Linked DNA regions of Homo sapiens. The protein of the gene in region 1 purifies or fractionates together with the protein of each later gene. This does not show direct contact. Each region holds a gene or a part of one and is shown on either strand. Other genes may lie near its edges.

Region 1 (2,863 bases):
CTTCTTTTTGAATTTAGATCTAGAAAATCTATAGCTTCATGTCTTTGCAGGATAAGAATCACAAATAGTAACGGCAAAAACCAACACAATTTCAAAATCATAAATATATAATAATTTTTAAATCTATTGTGCTATTTGCTCAGGTTATAGGATTTCTTTAAAAATCATACAATAGATATTTATTAACTACCCTTTCTCACTACCTTTATACAGGAAAATAGCTGAATTTTAAGTCACACCGAAAAAAAGAGGGGTGCACCCACATACTAAAATGGCACAGGGGGAGAACGATAGTTTAGTCACGCACTTAGAATAAGCTAAAAATACAGACACAGAGAGAGTCAGTGTAGATAGACAATTATTTTCCAGAGGTCACAAACCACTTTATGATGTAAGACTTTCATAATGTCTGATTCCATACATCTCTATGTGATCATATTATATTTAATATTGTTTTGAGACAGAGCTCCTGCCTGTAGAGAATTGACTCTGCAATTAATAGCTATAATCTACTCCCCATGGTTACCCTGTCTTCTTGGAGAAAAACAAAATACAAGTGCAGTAACAAGTATTTAATCATAAGGCATCTTAAGATTTTACCAATAGATAATTCAATTTTCCACTGCATTTTTTAAATTAAATTTTCTTCTTTTATTTTTAAGCTCCAACTAAGAACCTCTGATAAAAAAAAAATAATAGTTACTTACTTAGGTAAGTAGCCATCTGGGGAGGAAGTTTTAAAGATTTGGTAATGTTATTAAGTAAGGTGGATAGGTACCCTGTCGGCTGCTTCTTGGAATTAACTTGATAATGGACATTGTAGTATAACAATCATTTGGTTTACTTTTAAAACATCACTAAATTATTTTTAAGGATACAATAGATGTGAAAATATTGATTATTTGAAATGGTCACTCTTTTTGCTGCTTAGGGCTACACATAAGCCATTCTCAAGAGATAAAGTATGAATTTTGGAGTTGAAGAATGTACAGAGTGATTTTGAGAAAATTAAAAAAGAATGCATTGAGTTAAATTCACATACCTGCTCTGAGAATGGGAGAAATTTTAGCAAGAATATTTTTATTATTTTACATTTTGGATGTGGGCTAGTATAGAAACAATAGAACAAAGTATTTGTATTCACAGAAATAGAGTATGTGGACTTCAGCCAGTGATTTGAGAAGCCTACAACTCCAATTCAATACAATCAATTGTTTATTACATGTAAATGCTTACCCATGGGTCCTCTAATATTCCTCTTACTTCAGTAATTATGACATATTATTCTGGGTTTTTGTTTATTTATTTGCCATATGTGACTGTCCTATTAACACTTCTTTTTTTTTTTTTTTGTAAACTTTTAGAGAGGAAAATATGTGCAACTAATACAAAGTTTACACAAAATATATTTCTCATAAATGACCAGAAAAAATTATACCTCACTGACTGAGTTCGTCCTATTGGGATTAGCAGACACGCTGGAGCTACAGATTATCCTCTTTTTGTTTTTTCTTGTGATTTATACACTTACAGTACTGGGAAATCTCGGGATGATCCTCTTAATCAGGATCGATTCCCAGCTTCACACACCCATGTATTTCTTCCTGGCTAACCTGTCCTTTGTGGACGTTTGTAACTCAACTACCATCACCCCAAAGATGCTGGCAGATTTATTATCAGAGAAGAAAACCATCTCTTTTGCTGGCTGCTTCCTACAGATGTACTTCTTTATCTCCCTGGCGACAACCGAATGCATCCTCTTTGGGTTAATGGCCTATGACAGGTATGCGGCCATATGTCGCCCGCTGCTTTACTCCTTGATCATGTCCAGGACCGTCTACCTAAAAATGGCAGCCGGGGCTTTTGCTGCAGGGTTGCTGAACTTCATGGTCAACACAAGCCATGTCAGCAGCTTGTCATTCTGTGACTCCAATGTCATCCATCACTTCTTCTGTGACAGTCCCCCACTTTTCAAGCTCTCTTGTTCTGACACAATCCTGAAAGAAAGCATAAGTTCTATTTTGGCTGGTGTGAATATTGTGGGGACTCTGCTTGTCATCCTCTCCTCCTACTCCTACGTTCTCTTCTCCATTTTTTCTATGCATTCGGGGGAGGGGAGGCACAGAGCTTTCTCCACGTGTGCCTCTCACCTGACAGCCATAATTCTGTTCTATGCCACCTGCATCTATACTTACCTGAGACCTAGTTCCAGCTACTCCCTGAATCAGGACAAAGTGGCTTCTGTGTTCTACACAGTGGTGATTCCCATGTTGAATCCTCTGATCTACAGCCTCAGGAGTAAGGAAGTAAAGAAGGCTTTAGCGAATGTAATTAGCAGGAAAAGGACCTCTTCCTTTCTGTGATTGTTTGGCTAAAAATCTCAACTAAAGAGCATATTTTAGTTACTTTCAAAGTCTAGTTTATATCTACATTTTTTTATTAGAATATTTTCTCAGTAAACACATTCTGTTAATAGTTGTATCCAGTTAGGGATAAAGAAAGTTACCAAACTGATTCAAGATCATGGCATGTTGACTTTACTATGATTCTATATATCTTTGTTAGGTTCTCCAAAATAATGAATATTTTTAAATGAAATTTCATCTAGAAATCAAATGGAATATATGTTCACAGACCAAAGCCACAATGATACATGAAACTGGAAATATAAAATAATTTCTATTATCCATTCTTTTTTTCTTATGCATTATTTTTCACCATTTATGATTTTTAAGGGATTGTTAAATATCACATAGGTGAGAAATGCTATAAGTTTAATATATATTTCTCCTTTGTATTCACTGAACTACTTCTTGGGGGAATAAAATCAAATTTTAGGACTATAGTTTTAATAGGAATTCTA
Region 2 (3,500 bases), on another chromosome or scaffold:
ACACGGGCAATCCAGGAGGAGAGCCCTGATCGGGAACCAACCACGCTGGCACCCTGACTTCCAGACTGCAAACCTATGAGATCATAAATGTCTGCTGTTTAAACCACCTACTCTATGGTATTTTGCTGTGGCACCTAAGCAGATTAAATAGTCTGGTCACCTCAACTAAGTCCAAGCTCCTTAAGGTCTCCTCATGTCTTAGACTACTGTATGGCCCATTTTACCAGACATAGCATATATACCGCTGCTACTCAATTCCACAATGGAAAGAAAAACTCCTAAACACAACAGTCTACTTCCGAATTATATCCTCTTGATTCCTAAATTACTGGCCATATTTTTGTATTCAATACAGGAAAAACAATGTCATCACCAACATTCAGGGACAGGGGCATAAAGAAAGACTAAGGGAGGCTCATTCTTGTTAAGACCTAAAGCTGAGGAGGGTAAAGATAAGGCTTTTACATTCCTACTCCATTCATCTTCAACTCCTTTCCTGTGTCTACAACTCAGATGGAGGACTACTGATTTTCTGGATATGAAGCACTTGAAATGTTCTACATCCATCCTCACTCTGAGCTTCAACAAACTCTCCCCATCAATTTTTTGATAAAGTTGGTGCCCACTTTGCTGAATTTGAAATGAAAATATAAAAGGGCTGCCTAATATGCCACTAGGCATGGATTCTAAGTTTATAGTAAAATAAGATACTGGATAGTCCACAAGAAAGAGCCCTACAACTACTGTTATCAGAAAAAGACTAGTCCATAGGCTTATAAGCTCCTACATATGATCTCTTAAGTCACCAAAGTAGGAGTAACCACCTTTCCAGCCTTTCCCACAAGGCTACCCTTTAGATTCTTTTCAACTCTTCAAACTGCTTTAAATATGCTGAAGACAGTATGGTCTTCCTTGCCTGGCTCAGTGGTTTTTAACACTATTGGAAATAAAGTGAACAGGGAATATATCTTTTTGAAGGTATAAACCAGTTTGCAATATACTTGTACTCACTAATAAATTCACTTTAGTCTTTTAAGAGCATCATGTAGCAACACTGGCAATATATTTAATTATCCTTATAATGCTTGTACAATTCTCTATAAAAAGTTATAATGCAAGGCTTCCATTTCAGAATTAATCTGTATTTGTCACAGTCTGACCAGCTCTGATCAATTCTTTGTATTATAGTACTCCTAAAATAAGATACAACTCTATGACTCCTAAATGTCCTACATTAAATACATGACATGTTTCATTTGAAAACAAACAAAAAACGTAGGTTAACTAAAATAACCCACATACATCAAATGGAAAGTGAAACACAATTCTGACTTTGATGGAAAAAAACATTTTTACATTGTCCAAGTCAGTCAATATTACTCATTCTCTGAGGGTTTCTGACAGCCAATGTGTTTTCCATTATGTTCTTGGTAAAAAGCCATCTAATCTGAAATATTTAGCCTTTGGTTCAAATTCAGAAAGAGAGTGATTAAGTTGACAGGAAAATTAATACAGAGAAATAATTGCTTTCATGACATTTAGAAGAACAGAAAGTTAATAGTTTCTGGTCTCAAATGTTACTTTTTTTTTTGAGACGGAGTTTCGCTCTTGTTGCCCAGGCTGGAGTGCAATGGTGTGATCTCGGCTCACTGCAACCTCCGCCTCCCAGGTTCAAGCGATTCTACTGCCTCAGCCTCTCAAGTAGCTGGGATTACAGGCGGGTGCCACCACACCCAGCTGATTTTGTATTTTTAATAGAGATGGGGTTTGACCATGTTGGTCAGGCTGGTCTCAAACTCCTGACCTCAAGTGATCCACCCGCCTCGGCCTCCCGAAGTGCTGGGATTACAGGCGTGAGCCACCGTGCCCAGCAAATGTTACTTTTAACTATCCTATTGAGCATGTGCTCTTACATTGTCCTTTCAAATGCTCTCTGAAATAGGCTAGATATAGTTAGATATAAATTAGGGAAAAAAAGACTAGCTACAGGTCTGAGGTGCTCACATTATGGTATTCACTCTTTACCCTACCAGAGAATAGAATATTCTGGTTAATTCACTATTTAAGAATAAAGAGGCCGGGTGTGATGGCTCACACCTGTAATCCCAGCACTTTGGGAGGCCGAGGTGGGCGGATCACTTAAGGTCAGGAGTTCAAGACCAGCCTGGCCAAAATGGTGAAACCCCCTCTCTACTAAAAATACAAAAATTAGCTGGTTTTGGTGGCGGGCAACAGTAATCCCAGCTACTTGGAAGGCTGAGGCAGGAGAATCACTTGAACCTGGGAGACGGAGGTTGCAGTGAGCCAAGATCTGAGCCAAGATCGTGCCACTGCACTCCAGCCTGGGTCACAGAGTGAGACTCCGTCTCAAAAAAAAAAAAAAAAAAATTTAAAAAATTTAAAAAAAGAGATAAATCACAAAAACTTTCAAGTAGAACATAATTTTAAAAATCTGATGGTTAAAAAAATTACGTTTTTAATTTTTTACAGATAATGCATTTTATTATTTTCAGAGTACTATATTCACCATAAAATAAGTCTAAAGAGAATAATGAGGACTCTGTATTTATAATAAAATACACACATTTTCTTTTTAAATTCTATCCTTAAAAAAGGCGAGAAAAGGCAACTTTCAGAGAACTTTGTAAACCTTTCAAGTCTTCCAACAAAGTAGTACCAACAGAGGACTAAAGTCTTAAATAAGTCTCATTAAAGTGAAGGCTCACTCCCTCTGGTGGACAAAAGAAACTCCATATGCTATTTCCAGAATCAGTAAAGCAAGATAAGGAAGCCTTGTTAATGTTTTCTGAATGCTTCCTGCCTAGAATACATAAAAGACCTATATAGTTATTCTGAGAATAAATCTGGAAATGAAAGAGAACTGGAAAGGGGAAAAAAGGGGGAGGGAAACTAGCTGATGATACTGGTGCAAGGGAAGTCCTAACCTAGCTCCTCAATGGCTGTGTTGGGGAAGGACTTCAGCATCAGTCTCTCCTAAGTGAGCTCTGCCTCTGCTCTCTTCTCTGTCATAGGCCAACAGTTTTTTCCAAACTGCATGTCTAACCATTGTCAAGATGCTGCAGGTTGAGCATTCCTAATACAAAAATGCTAAAATCTGAAATGCTCCAAAATCTGAAACTCTCTGAGCACCAACATGATGCTCAAAGGAAATGCTCATTGGAACATTTTGGATTTTGGATTTCCAGATTAGGGCTGCTCAAATGGTATGTTTTCTCAAATATTCCAAGACCCAGAAAAATCCAAAATCTTTAACATTGCTGGTCCCAAGCATTGTTCAGATAAGGAAAATTCAATTTATATTTCAAACTGCCAAGTTTCTCCTCTATTATTTAGGCTTAGCCTCTCTGCATTAAACAAGGAGCTTTTGGAGAGCAGGAACCGTGCTTTGTTCATTTTTGTGTCCCCGGTACCCAACCCACTGTTTGGCATATGGTAGATGCTAATGTTGAATAAATGAAATGGTACTAGACTTCTAATCT
Region 3 (3,457 bases), on another chromosome or scaffold:
AATTGTTCTGTAAGGTGGATCAATTTGGTATAGGCATAGAGAAACCAAACAACTTAGCAGTAATGCACAAAATCCCTAATGTTACTCTTTTAAAAAAAACAACTCTGAATATACCACGTTAGCATAAATTTGTTTCCACATGGTAAAGGGTTCAGATTATTCCGTTCTAATTATGATACATCTAATGCATGTAGTGCCCTTTCATCCCTCAATAACTCACATAAAATAGTAAATAAAAAAAGAGGGAGAGAAAACCTTAATTCAATGAGAATAAGGTAGGAACACTTGGGATGTGTTCTGTCACACTTAGGAATTTCGGTGGGGTTTCTGTACTAGACATTAATTTTATTTGGATATCTAAAATAACTTGCTAGTAAGCAAGGAGTAGAATGATGGATATATTCATGAAAAGGTTACATTTTGGTGATGTTGATCCTGATATTTGTTTAAAGACAATGGGGTGGGAAGGTTGGGGACATAGCCAAAACAAGTTTAGGTCACAACTTGACTCATACTATTTCCTCTAATAAGTAAAAACATCTTTAAATTATTAACTTTTAATAGTAGTACTCTCATACTAGTAGGAAACAAACTTTTGGGCTAATCAGATTTGCCCCAGCTTCTCTGTCATATTTAAAAACAAAGGAAATGTTCAGCTATTACAGAATATTCTATGATCTCTCCTTCTCATAAGTTGTAGAAATACATACTGAAACAGCCTTCACTGTATAATATTTTTTGCATTTGATTTCTGTTAAGTTCAAGTTTACAAAATATACTACTTATTATCAGTAAATTCTTACCAACTCGTTTTAGCTAAAAACAAAAGTAAATGCTTACTCCTTTAAACATTGTAAATATTTTCAGAGAGGAAGAGTAGAAGATGTTGTTGTTAGTGATGAATGCAGAGGAAAGCAGCTTGGCAAATTGTAAGTAGGCAGAAACAAGGTAACCCTGGATAAATTTTGTTCCAATTTAGTTTCTTAACAAGATACTTGTTTGAAGTTCTTTTTGGCTTCATTAATTCTGAACTTATTCTCACTCTAATAGTTTAGACTGAATTTCATGAAGAAATAAAGTATTATTATACATATTTTGCCTTAAAGTTTGAAAATTGGAAGCATACTTCTTTACAGACAGTAACATCTTTAAATTACTAACTTTTTATAGTAATGCTCTCGTCCTAGTAGGAGATAAACTTTTGGGCTAATCGGATTTGCCTCAGCTTCTCTGTCATATTTAAAAACAAAGGAAATGTTCAACTATTACAGAATATTCTGTGATCTCTCATTCTCATAAGTTGTAGAAATACATACTGAAACAGCCTTCACTGTATATATCTAAATCATTTAAAATAAATATAAATAAGTGGTATTGATTTATTGCCATTTTATAAGAACTTGTAGTTCTTATTTATTATAATTTTTAGTTTTTGAGACAGGGTCTGTTTTTGACAGCTCTGTCACCCAGGCTGAGGTGCAGTGGCTCAATCTCAGCTCACTGCAGCCTCAGCCTCCTGGGCTCAAGCAATCCTCTTCAGCCCCCCAATTAGCTGGGACTACAGGTACACGCCACACCTGGCTAATTTTTAAAAATTTGTAGAGATGGGGCCTCATCATGTTGCTCAGGCTGGTCTCAAACAGTGCTCCTGCCTTGGCCTCCCAAAGTGCTGGGATTACAGGTGGGAGCCACTGTGCCTGGCCCAAGAACTTGCTTTTTAACACTAACTCTTCTGAGTTTTAAGGAATTAACAAATATTAAATACCTGCTTATGTACCAGATGCTATTCTAGGTATTTGGAATACCTCAGTGAACAAAACAGACCGATTTCTTGTGTTCTAGTCTATATAATTTATGTTTTTTTTTTTTTTTTTTTTTTTTTTAAGAGATGGGATCTCTTTCTGTTGCCCAGGCTGGAGTATACAGTGGTACGATCACAGCTCACTGCAGCCTTGAATTTCTGGGGCTCAAGTGAGCCTCTCGCCTCAGCCTCCCAAGTAGCTGGGACTACAGGTGCATGCCGCTGCACCCAGCTAATTTTTTATAGAGATAGGGTTTTGCTATGTTGCTTTGGCTAGTCTCGAACTTCTGGACTCAAGTGATCCTTGGCCTCCTAAAGTGCTGGAATTACAGGCATGAGCCACTGCAACCAGCCAGGCATACTTCAGTCAAGGTCTTTTGTTTTTTTTAAAAATAGGATTTTTTAGTCTGTTCAAACATGGGCAGACCCTTCAAGTTTGTATATCTTTTATAGTTTTTATCCTCTAAGGCACTTAGATCCACACTTTAATACTGGGTTTGGATTCATTAAGAAATTTTGTATAGATGTAGACTTGCTTTGTTTCCACTTCATATTAATTAGACCAATCTTGAGTTAATCTGATACACACCTTCACAAATATTAAAGTAGCTTTAAAAATGATTAAAGAGCAAAGCTATTATGTACTCATTTTATGTGGGTATGTCGACTGCTCCGAAGTTGTTTAAATAGATTTAAATAAAGAATTTTTACAAAATAATTTTGGTCATTTTTTTTTTTAAAGGTTGAGTTTTTAGTGTTAACATGCATCTTAAAATTCGTTTTTCTTTTTCAAGACAGAGACTCACTCTGTTGCCCAGGCTGGAGTGCAGTGGCACAATCACTACTCACCGCAGCCTTGACCTCTCTGGGCTCAGGTGATCTTCCCCCCTCAGCCTCTGGAGTAGCTGCGACTTTAGGCATGTGCCATCATGCCCTACTAATTTTTATATTTTGTAGAGATGGGGTTTTGCCGTGTTTCCCAGGCTGGTGTCAAACCCCTGGGCTCTAGCGATCGCCTGCCTCGGCTTCCCAGAGTGCTAGGATTACAGGTATGAGTCACTGCACCTAGCCTTAAATTTCATTTTTAAAGAGGGCTTAGGGTGAGTTTTGTATTTGTCCTGTTTATTAGTGAGCTGGAGATTACTAGATAAAAGTATATTTGACTCTAAGTAAAAATGCTTTGGTGATTTAAATGCTTATCAACTTACATGAATGCAGTGGGAAAAGCCATAATCTAAACCTGTTTCTAAGGAAACTTAAGTTTTATAACATTAATTCATATTGTTACTAGAATCAATTTTTATTAATAAATGCTATCTCCTCACCCTACCCCCTTTTTAAATTTCAGGTTATTATCAACCCTTACTTTGCTAAGCAAGAAACTGAACTGTTACAAGATTACCCTTGAATGTCTACCACAAAATGTTGGTTTCTATAAAAAGTTTGGATATACTGTATCTGAAGAAAACTACATGTGTCGGAGGTTTCTAAAGTAAAAATCTTGTAAGAAAATTGTCAAAGGGGCTAATGCTACAAGGCTACACTCTTCCTAGAGTTGAAATATTTTGTTGCTGCAGCCGAGTGACCTCCATAAATACTGGACTGAAAAAACATTGTAATACTACAAGTATAATGACATTTAGAAGATTACTTTGG
Region 4 (3,500 bases), on another chromosome or scaffold:
GAAAGGGTAACAGGGAGAGGAAGATAACAAGGATAAGAGGGAACTATGGCTGTAATTTAAACTTTGAATAAATGTTTAGAAAGATTGGAGAAGTCGTTTGCTTCTTTTTTAAGGAAACTCGCTCAAGATAGTTTGTTTATAGAGCTGGATTTTTTTTTTCTCTTATACTTTCATCCATTCTCCCCTGCTCTTTGTAGAGGTGTATCTATCATATACAAACCTGAAATTGGTGTATATTGATAAAGTTGCTGTATTTTGGCAGTGATATTCCTGTGTGTGTTTTGGTTCTTTCTCTACTTATGTATGAATATCATTAAATATATATTGAATTATTTGGGTATTTCTTTTGACAAAATTCTACATCAGAGACCTTTAAGAAAAATCAGAATTCAATCTATTATAGGTACATAGGGAAGAAGATGTTGTAAATAGAGAACTGGCTTAAGGCAAATAAAAGTTGGAATGGGTAAAGTTACTTTTCAGTTATCTTGGTTACTAGTGTGATATTTTCCTAAGATTCTGAAAGAGGATAATGAGATATGTAATTTTTAGATTTGCAAAAAGCACAGGTTTTTCTGGCTGGAAAATGTCCAGCTGAAGGTGATAATTAGTATGAATCTCTCACATGGGAATGCAAATGAGTAAGTGAACCACTTGGAGAAATGTAAGTCAAATAAGATGTTATGTCCATTTCTGGCTATCACTAATGATTAAGAGTAAAACCTCGAGTCATCATAAACTGTGTGCCAAAAGTGCCTAATATTTTTCTGTATGCATAGTGAATAGCAAGATGACTAACCTCTTTAAAGAGGGCACTTTTATATAGAATCATACAGTCTACATCTTGTACTAGGTGTGAAGGTGACCATTTTCACCTCTAAAACATTTATTAGTGCTTAAGAAAATGGCTAGAGAAACATAATGGGATGTAATGATGCCTCTTTAGGATTTTCTGAACATTCTTCAGTCTGGAAAGGTAAGGACCAAGGAAGCAGTATGACTAATGTATTAGTCCATCTTGCATTGCTATAGAGAAATACCTGAGACTGGGTAATTTGTAAAGAAAAGAGGTTTAATTGGCTCATGGTTTGGCAGGCTATACAGGAAGCATGGCAGTGTCTGTTTCTGGGAGGCCTCATTCATAGAACTTTTAATCATGGCAGAAGGCAAAGGGGAAGCGAGGCGGCTTACATGGCAGGAGCAGGGTGCCGGGGCTGTGCACTTTTAAACAGATCTCATGAGAACTCTATCATAAGAATAGCACCAAAGGGATGGTGCTAACCCATTCATGAAGAATCCACCCCCATGATCCAGTCACCTCCCACCAGGCCCCACTTCTAACGCTGGGGATTACAATTCGACATGAGACTTGGTGGGGACGCAAATCCAAATCATATCAACTAAAGTTAACAGAATCACGAAGTGGCGATAGTGTTACCTTGTTTGTTGTGTGATGCTGGGATGCGGAGGGGGCATTTCTGGGTATTGGAAAGAGAAAGTCAAGTTCATTGGGTGAATTGAAAACATGAAAATCTCATATCCTGAATGTTGCATAGATTTTAAAAGGTTTAATTAAATTGATAGATGATAGATCCATCATGAAAGGTAAATTTAAGGGGTGGGGGACATTCTGAATGTTTTTAGGACAATGTCAGTAAAGGGCAGTGCTCACCCAAGAGACATATATTGGTATCACTGTCAGAATATAGGGCCGGATGAACTGTTGTGCTTGTGAATTATTGGGTTACATTATTGAATTGTGACCCATTTAATGACGTGTTCTGCTTAGCGTCTTTAGGCCCCACCTAACTCTTCCAGCTCTCTATTCGACATTCTCTTTGGATTGTTTTGCTATAACTTGAAATTTGGGATGTCACAAACGAAACTGTCATCTGTTTCCGCCAAACTGTGGTTCTGCTAATCTCCCAGGCTGGCAGCATTGGAGACTTGCTGACTTCTTTCATCCCCCACTCTTTTCACCTGAAATTCCTTTCCTTGGTTTTGCTCTAAGTCCTATGCTTCAGTCAGGGGCCAACCAAATCTCACTGCCTCCTTTTTATCATGAAGCCTTTGATCACTGATAGTTCTTTTTATATCTTGAAAAATCACCCTTCCCAGTACAGTTAATATTTAGTATCTCTACTCATCTTGGCACTTACTCACAGCTCCATAATTCAGTGTTTCTCGTACCTCTTCATGGTGATGGGGAGCCCTTTGGAGGTGGTGACTGTGCTTTATACTCCTCATGATGCTTCACATGTGGCAGGCATGGAGTGAAGACTTTTTAGAACAGAATGCTTTAAATGGCATGTGGCCTGAGGAGATGATTGTCTTGTACCTCTTGCTAAAAGTGGTTTTCATTCTTTGTAGGTTTCATGTGGACAAACTCTCTTCGGCTCATGTATACCTTCGATTACATAAGGTAACTGAATTTAAACATGGATTCTTGACTTTTCTCCTGATGATGCATCATATCTTGTTCTTTATCCTTTGCAATTAAATTGCTTACAGTAATAAGTTGGTACGCAAATCTAAAAGTTAACAAATGAAGACGTGTCTTCCCTCTGACCCAGAAAATCACTCTAACATTCTAGATGATTTTTGAGATATAGAAGGAGGCAGTGTACATATTTCCCAGCTAGATGCACTGCTTATCCTGTCACTTCCGGTGTGCTGTCTGTCATCTCTGCTTTCCTTTTCTTTCAATTCAGTTGACACTCCCAGACTTTCTGTCTCCTCCAGTGGATATCATGTGTGGCTCATGTGATTCTCCTGCCTCAGTGAAGGGCCCGTGTTCCCAGTTATCATGGGCTTCTTTAGGAAGTTTAAAAGAACATGCTAGTAATAAAGGAAAAAAATTTTTAGTGGCCCCTAGTAATACAATACCACTATTTTTCCAATCTATCTCTATTCATATATTTTATATAGTTGAATCATAGGGTATATATGCTTGCGAGTGTACTGCTTTCTTTTTGATAAACTTTCAACTTTGGAAAAATGTTAGATTTCCAGAAAAGTGGCAGAAGTGATACAGAGTTCCCATCTACCCTTCACCTAGTTTCCCCCATCATCAACATCTTATATTACTATGGTAGATTTGTCAAGACAAAGAAACTAACCTTGGCACATCGCTGTCACCTAAACTCTGGACTTTATTTGGATTTCACCAACTTTCTATTAATGCCCTCTTTTTGTTCTAGTAGCCAGTCTAGAGTACCATATTACATTTAGTTGTGTCTGCCTAGTCTCCTCTAGTCTATCACAATTTCTCATTCTTTCTCTGTTTTTTATGACCTTGACAGTTTGAGAAGTACTGATCAGGTGTTTTGTAGACTATTGCTCAGTTTGCATTTATCTGATATTTTTTCTCGTGACTAGACGGGTTATGGGTTTAGGGGGAGAATATCACAGAGGTGAAGTGCCTGTCTCGTCACAGCATATCGGGTGCGTGTATTACCGTGACTTATCATTGATGACGTGAGCCTTGATGGCCTGGCCAG
Region 5 (3,500 bases), on another chromosome or scaffold:
ATTGAAATCAAGGCATCAATAGGGCCATACTCCCTTTGAAGGACTCTAGGGGAAACTCCTTCCTTGCCTCTTCCAGCTTCTAGTGTCCCTGGTGTTCCTTGGCTTGTGGTAGCATCACTTCATAACTTCTCTGCTTCCATCTTCACATGGCCTTCTCTCTGTTTCTGTGTCTCAAATCTCTCTCTCCTTTCTGTTAAAAGGATGCCAGTCATTGGATTAGGACCCGTCCTAAATCCAGGATGATCCTGAGATCCTTAAGAGCCTCAACTTAATTACATTTGCAAGGACACTTTTTCCAAATAAGGTTACATTCACACGTGCCGGGTTTTTGGATTCGGACATATCTTTTTGGGGAACAATATTCAAATGCACTGCACCCTTTTACATTCCTACCAACTGTTAGTAGGAATGTAAAATGAGAGTTCTACTTGTTTCATATCTTTTCATCGCTTGTCAGTCTTTTACATTTTAACCATTCTAGTAGGTGTGCAGTGATATTTGATTTTAATTTGCATTTCAGTGATGACTAATGAGGTTGCATATCTCTCTTTTTGTAAATCTTTATTGAGTGAGGTATAATTTACATACCATAAAATTCACCTGTTTTCAGTGTAGGACTCAATGGTTGGTAGCATATTTGCAGAGTCGTGTAACTGTCACCACCGTCTTATTTTAGAACAGTTCCATTCCAGAAGAAACTTTGTATTCATTTGCAGTTATTTCTCAATTCTACTTCCTCCCTAGGGAACCACGAATCTACTCTGTTCTTTAGATTTGCCTTTTCTGGACATTTTTATATAGATGGACTCATACAATATGTGGTCTTCTTTCACCCAGGATGTTTTTGAGGTTCATCCATGTTGTAGCATATATTGGTACTTTGTTCCTTTTTATTACACAGTGGATAGAATTCCAGTGTCAGGCCGAGCATGGTGGCTCATGCCTGTAATCCCAGCACTTTGGGAGGCCAAGGCAGGTGGATCACCTGAGGTCAGGATAACTTAGATCAAGACCAGCCTGGCCAACATGGTGAAACCCTGTCTCTACTAAAAATACTAAAATTAGCCAGGAGTGGTGGCACATGCCTGTAATTCTAGCTACTCGGGAGGCTGAGGCATGAGAATCACCTAACCTGGAAGGCAGAGGTTGCAGAGAGCCCAGATTGTGCCACTGCATTCCAGCCTGGGTGACAGAGTGAGACTGTGTCTCAAAAAAAAAAAAAGAATTCCAGTGTCAGGATATACCATATTTTGTTTATCTGTTCACCAGTTGATGGACATTTGATTTGTTTCTACATTTTGACTATTATGGAAAATGCTACTGTGAACATTTGCACCCTAGTTTTTGTGTGGACGTGTTTTCATTCCTCTTTGGTAGATACTTAGGAGTGGAATTACAGGACTTATGGTAAATCTATGTTTAACATTTTAAGAAACTGACAAACTGTTTACTTGTGTGGCTACACCATTTTACATTTCCCATCAGCCATTTTGAGGGTTACAATTTTGTCACATCCTTGTCAACACTTGTTGTTGTCTGTCTTTTCTATTGTAGCCGTTATAGTGGGTGTGAAGTAGTATCTCATTGTGGTTTGATTTGCATTTCTCTGATGGGTAATAATGTTATGCATCTTCTCATGTGCTTATTGGACATGTGTATATCTTCTTTTGTGAAGTGTCTGTTCAAAATCTTTGCCCATTTTTTTGTTGGATTGTTTGTGTTCCTATTATTAAGTTTTATGAGTTCTTTATATTTTCTAGATATAAATCCTTTGTTTACTATGTGTGTTGCAAACATTATCTTCCATTCATCTAGGTTACTTAATAGTTTTTAAGAAAGGTCCACTTTATCAATGTTTATTTTTATGATTCATGCTTTTTGTGTCATATCTATGCAGTCTTTATCCCAAAGTCACAAAGATTTCTTTTTTGCTTTTTAAATTAAACTTTGTCATCCCCATAATGGGCACTTAGTTTTTATTTTTCTTTTCTCTTTGAAATAACTTAGATCATATTTTCTCTCTTGTGATTGCTTATGCTATGGACTTTTATGCTGTTTCCAAGTCTGGAGGGTGAATAAGAAGGTTGGACCACATAGCTTTCTACGATTAACATTTATTTAATTTGTGTTAAGCACATGAGAATACTATACGGTATTCATGCATTTTTAAAATGAACTTTTCTTCTAAGGCATATAATAGAACAGTCCAGATAAGTATTTGATGGTTTGAGTTAGAACCATGGCGTCTACTATTTCCTTACTGTAGGGATAGGGGATTCATACCCCGTGCCTCAGTTTCTCCAGTCATTAATGAGGTTAAGAATAGCTGCTTCTGTGGGTTGGTGTGAGGACCCAGTGTGATGAGGTCTAGCTACTATTCCAGGGGTAGAGTAGCATGCCCTTGATTGAGTTTGGTGGCCTGAGGGGTCCTCTGCTGGGGTGGGGCTGGCCCTATGCATTTTTTCCCAGATGTTATAATTTATTATTTTGAAATGATTTAAAACTTATTGAAGAGCAAGAGTAGAACCTAGAGCTCTCATAGACCTGTTTGTCCATATTCACAGGTTAACATCTTGCTGTGTTCACTTTATTGCTCTCTTTCTCGCCATATATATCCACATGAACAATTTTTTTAATGAACCATTGCAGAGTAAGTCGGAGACATCAGTCCTCTTTACCCCTAAATAGTTCAGCATATATTTCCTAAGAACATGGACATTCTCTTGCATACAAATATAAACACAATCAATTGTTAATTTCAGAAAAAGTTAACATTGATATAATGCTATTATTTCATCCAAAGTCCATATTCAAATTTTGCTAATTGTCCTAATAATGAATTTTATAGCATTTTTTTCCTGGTCCAGGTTCCATCTGGATTGCATATTACCTTTCATTGTCAGGTCCCTTTGGTCTCTTCTCCTTTAATCTGGTGTCCTTTCATGTCCTTTAAATTGGTTCCTCATCCTTTTTCTTTCAAGACATTGACATTTGTGATGTGTGCAAGCTATCTTTTATTTATTTATTTATTTATTTATTTAATTTTTTTGTAGAATGGCCCTGTATTCTTATTTGTCTTATGTTTCCTTATGATTAGATTCAGATTTTGCCTTTTTTTTTTTTTTTTTGAGACCAAGTCTCGCTCTGTTGCCCAGGCTGGAGTGCAGTGGCGCGATCTCAGCTCACTGCAACCTCCACCTCCCGAGTTCAAGCGATTCTTCTGCCTCAGCCTCCTGAGTAGCTCAGACTACAGACACGTGCCACCACACCCAGCTAATTTTTGTATTTTTAGTAGAGATGGGTTTCACCATGTTGGCCAGCCTGATCTCGAACTCCTGACCTCGTGATTCACCTGCCTCGGCCTCCCAAAGCGTTGGGATTACAGGCGTGAGCCACCGTGCGCAGCCCAGATTTTGCATTTTTGCATGTATATTTTTGAGGAAAGATGGGGCCTCTAGAGGTCACATATTTATAATCCACATATGCCTCCTGGCTGTAGG
Region 6 (3,500 bases), on another chromosome or scaffold:
ATCTTCTTTTCCAGTAGTTCCTTCCCTTCAGGTTATAAAAGTGCTGGGTCACTTTATCGAAGTCTTTTTGCATTTATAGCTAAGCTTTTTGAAAACTCAGACCGTGCTAATGTCTCTGTATCTTCACCTCTTATTCAATCTCAAATCCATTGTAATATGACTTCTGTTATCACTGTTATCATTGAGGTTCTCAGTGCTCAGTAACCACCTAATTGACAAATTGGTTGGACTCTGGTTAGTTTTGGTGAAAGCAAGGTAATTTCTAAGGTTAACAATTTGAAGTTTGAGAAAAACTAACATATAGAACATGCTAAGAAATCAGGGATGAATATTACTGAGCAGCAGTAATACCCAGTTCAAGTTAGCATGAAATTGTAGTAAACCAGATTAGGATGGTTCTATGATGCATTCTGTTAACTTTCTGAAGCCAGGGAATTGAGAAAGCAGAAGTTGTTCATGGTTGGACATGGTGGCAGGATAAGTGATCTGGGAGATTTAATATTAGTAATGACAAGACTGGGGAGAAAATATATTCTAAATGTTGGCAGAAGATAATAGAAAGCCTGTTTATATTTTAAGCTACATATAAGAAAGGGGGCCAGGCGCAGTGGCTCATGCCTGTAATCCCAGCACTTTGGGAGGCTGAGGCAGGTGGATCACATGAGGTCGGGAGTTAAAGGCCAGCCTGGCCAACATGGTGAAACCTCGTCTCTACTAAAAATACAAAAATTATCCCGGCGTGGAGCACCTGTAATCTCAGCTTTTAGGGAGGCTGAGGCAGGAGAATTGCTTGAACCTGGGAGGCAGAGGTTGCAGTGAGCCAAGATCGTGCCACTGCACTCCAGCCTGGGTGACAGAGTGAGACTCCATTTCAAAAAAGAAAAAGAAAGGAAGGGAAAAGACAAGGTGGACTGGGTATTTGAACTCTTTTCATGGTCCTGCCATCAGTCCACATAGTGGAGTTTAGGTGTAGTCTGTTTAAGAATGTTAATCTCCCTGCATCTGCTGGTTTTTGGGTCATAAGCTTGAGTTCAGAGCTAAACAACTTGAATTCTTCTCCTGGGGATTTGGATTATCGTGGTTTGGTTAAGTAGGCTCAAACCATTAGGCTGGTATTACAACAAGTTTGGCATAAATATGTAAATGAATCAGGATATTGAGTCTTAATGTAAGTTTAGGATTGAACTTGATTTTACAGGATTATTTGATCTTTTGTACCTAAGTATTAACACAAATTTGCTATTATGAGGGTTAAGAGTATAGATGCTGGAATCAAACTCCCTGGGTTTATACCTGCTTCATCACTTACTAGCTTTGTGACCTTGGACAAATCATTTGATTAGTTCCCTAATTTGTAAAATGGTGACAGTAGGAGTAGAATCTCATAAGGTTGTTGTAAAGATTAAAATATGTAAAGTGTTAAGAACATTGCCTGGCACATACTAAGTACTATGTAAATGATTAGCTGTTACTGTGTTCTTATAAATAGCTTCATTTTTAAAAACTACTTTTAACCCTTTCATCAGATTATTGAAAGTATTATTGAGGAGAGTCAGAAAGTACTACAGCTTGAAGATGACTCTTTGGATTCCAAAGGAAAAGAACTCTCTGATCAAGCTACTGCCAGTCCTATTGTGGCTAGAACAGATCTGAGCAATATACCCGGACTGTTAGCCATAGATCAAGTACTACCGGAAGAATCCCAAAAGGCAGAGAGTCAGAATACATTTGAAGAGACTGAATTAGAATTAAAAAAATGCTTTCCTTCTGATGAAACCTGTGAGAAACCAGTAGATGAAACCACGAAGTTAACTCAAACAAGTTCAACTGAGCAGCTTAATGTGCTTGAAACTGAAACAGAAGTATTGAACAAGGAAGCAGTGGAAGTCAAAGGAGGTGGTGATGTTTTAGAGCCTGTGTCCTCAGACTCCTTATCTACTAAAGATTTTGCCGCTGTGGAAGAAGTGGCCCCTGCCAAACCCCCAAGACACCTTACTCCAGAGCCTGATATAGTGGCTAGTACAAAGAAGCCTGTTCCAGCACGCCCACCTCCTCCAACTAATTTCCCACCTCCTAGACCCCCACCTCCTTCTCGACCTGCTCCACCACCAAGAAAAAGGAAAAGCGAATTGGAATTTGAGACTCTGAAAACTCCTGATATAGATGGCAAGTATTAATTGAGAAATCACTCTGTTGGTTGGGCACAGTGGCTCACGCCTGTAATCCCAGCACTTTGGGAGGCCAAGGCGGGCGGATCGCTTGAGCTCAGTTCAAGACCAGCCTGGGCAACATGGCAAAACCCCATCTGAGCAACAACAACAAAAAAAAATACAAAAGTTAGCTGGCCATGGTGGCACGCGCCTGTAGTCCCAGCTACTTGGGAGGCTGAGGCAGGAGAGTTGCTTGGGCCTGGGAGGCAGAGACTGCAGTGAGCCAAGGTCGCGCCATTGCACTCCAGCCTGGGTGATCAGAGTGAAATCTTGTCTCAAAAAAAAAAAAAAAGAGAGAAATAACTCTTTGTGGTGAAATTTTGGAGTTGAAACTGTTTACCTTTCTGCCTTTATTTCACTTTATTAAAAAACTCACTGGCAACCAAGTTATTAAAATTATTTCTTTAGTAATAGACAAAATGTAAAAATGTTTACATTGGTGAAAATTACTTTACTGTAATTGAACACTTCAGCAGACTTCAAACTTTCAATTCTGTTGCCATCTGAGAGAGAGTGGCATGGTGAAAAAAACTTGGGATTTGGAGACCTAAAGTCTGAATTCAAGTCCTGCATCTTTTTTTTGTATGAGCTGTATAGTCTTGAGGAAATTAAATAACTTGTTTGAACCATGGTTTCCCTGTATAGGAAATGAGAGTAATCAAGCCACTTTCCTCACAGGGTTGTTACAAGAATCAAACAAAAAGGGTTGTTATTATTGTTGTTATTATTATCATTGCAGTTCCCAAAGAGAATATTACGTCTGATTCTCTCCTAACCGCAAGCATGGCTTCAGAAAGTACGGTTAAGGATTCTCAGCCTTCTCTTGATTTGGCAAGTGCTACCAGTGGAGATAAAATAGTTACCGCCCAGGTTGGTGAATTAGTGTTCTGTTTCATATAGACTTTATCAGCTCCCTGCAACTGGCTGGTTTGTTGATGATTATTCTGTATTCTCCAGGCCAGATTTTTCTTTGTCCTCCAAACCTGACCCCCTTACTTCTCTTGATCAGCTCTGCTACATGCTAACTGGGTGAGCCTAGCAAGCTGTTTAGCATCTGGATCTCAGATGCCCCATCAATAAAATGGAGGAAAAGTCCTTCCTTGAGGGTTTGAAATGAGCTAAAATATGCCAAGTATCTAGCAGGTAATAGGTATTCAAAAAACGACAGATGCTACTATTTGTAATATTGTTGGTACTAATAAACACCAACTATAGTCTATGTTTGTCCTGTATTGGTCAGAATTGAAGACTTTTTTTTTTTATAATTTCCTTTTCCTAATCATAGAAAAA

What was found.
Region 2: the proteins of OR5F1 (region 1) and HMGCS1 purify together in Homo sapiens (affinity purification with mass spectrometry; 3 studies listed by BioGRID and IntAct, with this or other methods). This does not show direct contact.
Region 3: the proteins of OR5F1 (region 1) and GNPNAT1 purify together in Homo sapiens (affinity purification with mass spectrometry; 2 studies listed by BioGRID and IntAct, with this or other methods). This does not show direct contact.
Region 4: the proteins of OR5F1 (region 1) and CCDC25 purify together in Homo sapiens (affinity purification with mass spectrometry; 2 studies listed by BioGRID and IntAct, with this or other methods). This does not show direct contact.
Region 5: the proteins of OR5F1 (region 1) and FTO purify together in Homo sapiens (affinity purification with mass spectrometry; 2 studies listed by BioGRID and IntAct, with this or other methods). This does not show direct contact.
Region 6: the proteins of OR5F1 (region 1) and WDR44 purify together in Homo sapiens (affinity purification with mass spectrometry, with the first as the bait; one large-scale study listed by BioGRID). This does not show direct contact.

The regions. Positions count from the first base shown.
Region 1 is NC_000011.10:55,993,181-55,996,043, reverse strand, and holds OR5F1 (olfactory receptor 5F1), read left to right. Parts: upstream 1-1,418; coding exon 1,419-2,363; downstream 2,364-2,863. UniProt on the Homo sapiens protein: Odorant receptor.
Region 2 is NC_000005.10:43,303,413-43,306,912, forward strand, and holds part of HMGCS1 (hydroxymethylglutaryl-CoA synthase, cytoplasmic), read right to left. Parts: intron 1-3,500. UniProt on the Homo sapiens protein: Catalyzes the condensation of acetyl-CoA with acetoacetyl-CoA to form HMG-CoA, which is converted by HMG-CoA reductase (HMGCR) into mevalonate, a precursor for cholesterol synthesis.
Region 3 is NC_000014.9:52,778,151-52,781,607, reverse strand, and holds part of GNPNAT1 (glucosamine 6-phosphate N-acetyltransferase), read left to right. Parts: intron 1-867; coding exon 868-929; intron 930-3,149; coding exon 3,150-3,297; 3' UTR 3,298-3,457.
Region 4 is NC_000008.11:27,755,641-27,759,140, reverse strand, and holds part of CCDC25 (coiled-coil domain-containing protein 25), read left to right. Parts: intron 1-1,051; exon of another isoform or gene 1,052-2,370; coding exon 2,371-2,422; exon of another isoform or gene 2,423-2,838; intron 2,839-3,500.
Region 5 is NC_000016.10:53,707,156-53,710,655, forward strand, and holds part of FTO (alpha-ketoglutarate-dependent dioxygenase FTO), read left to right. Parts: intron 1-3,500.
Region 6 is NC_000023.11:118,391,106-118,394,605, forward strand, and holds part of WDR44 (WD repeat-containing protein 44), read left to right. Parts: intron 1-1,526; coding exon 1,527-2,166; intron 2,167-2,949; coding exon 2,950-3,080; intron 3,081-3,500. UniProt on the Homo sapiens protein: Downstream effector for Rab11 which regulates Rab11 intracellular membrane trafficking functions such as endocytic recycling, intracellular ciliogenesis and protein export.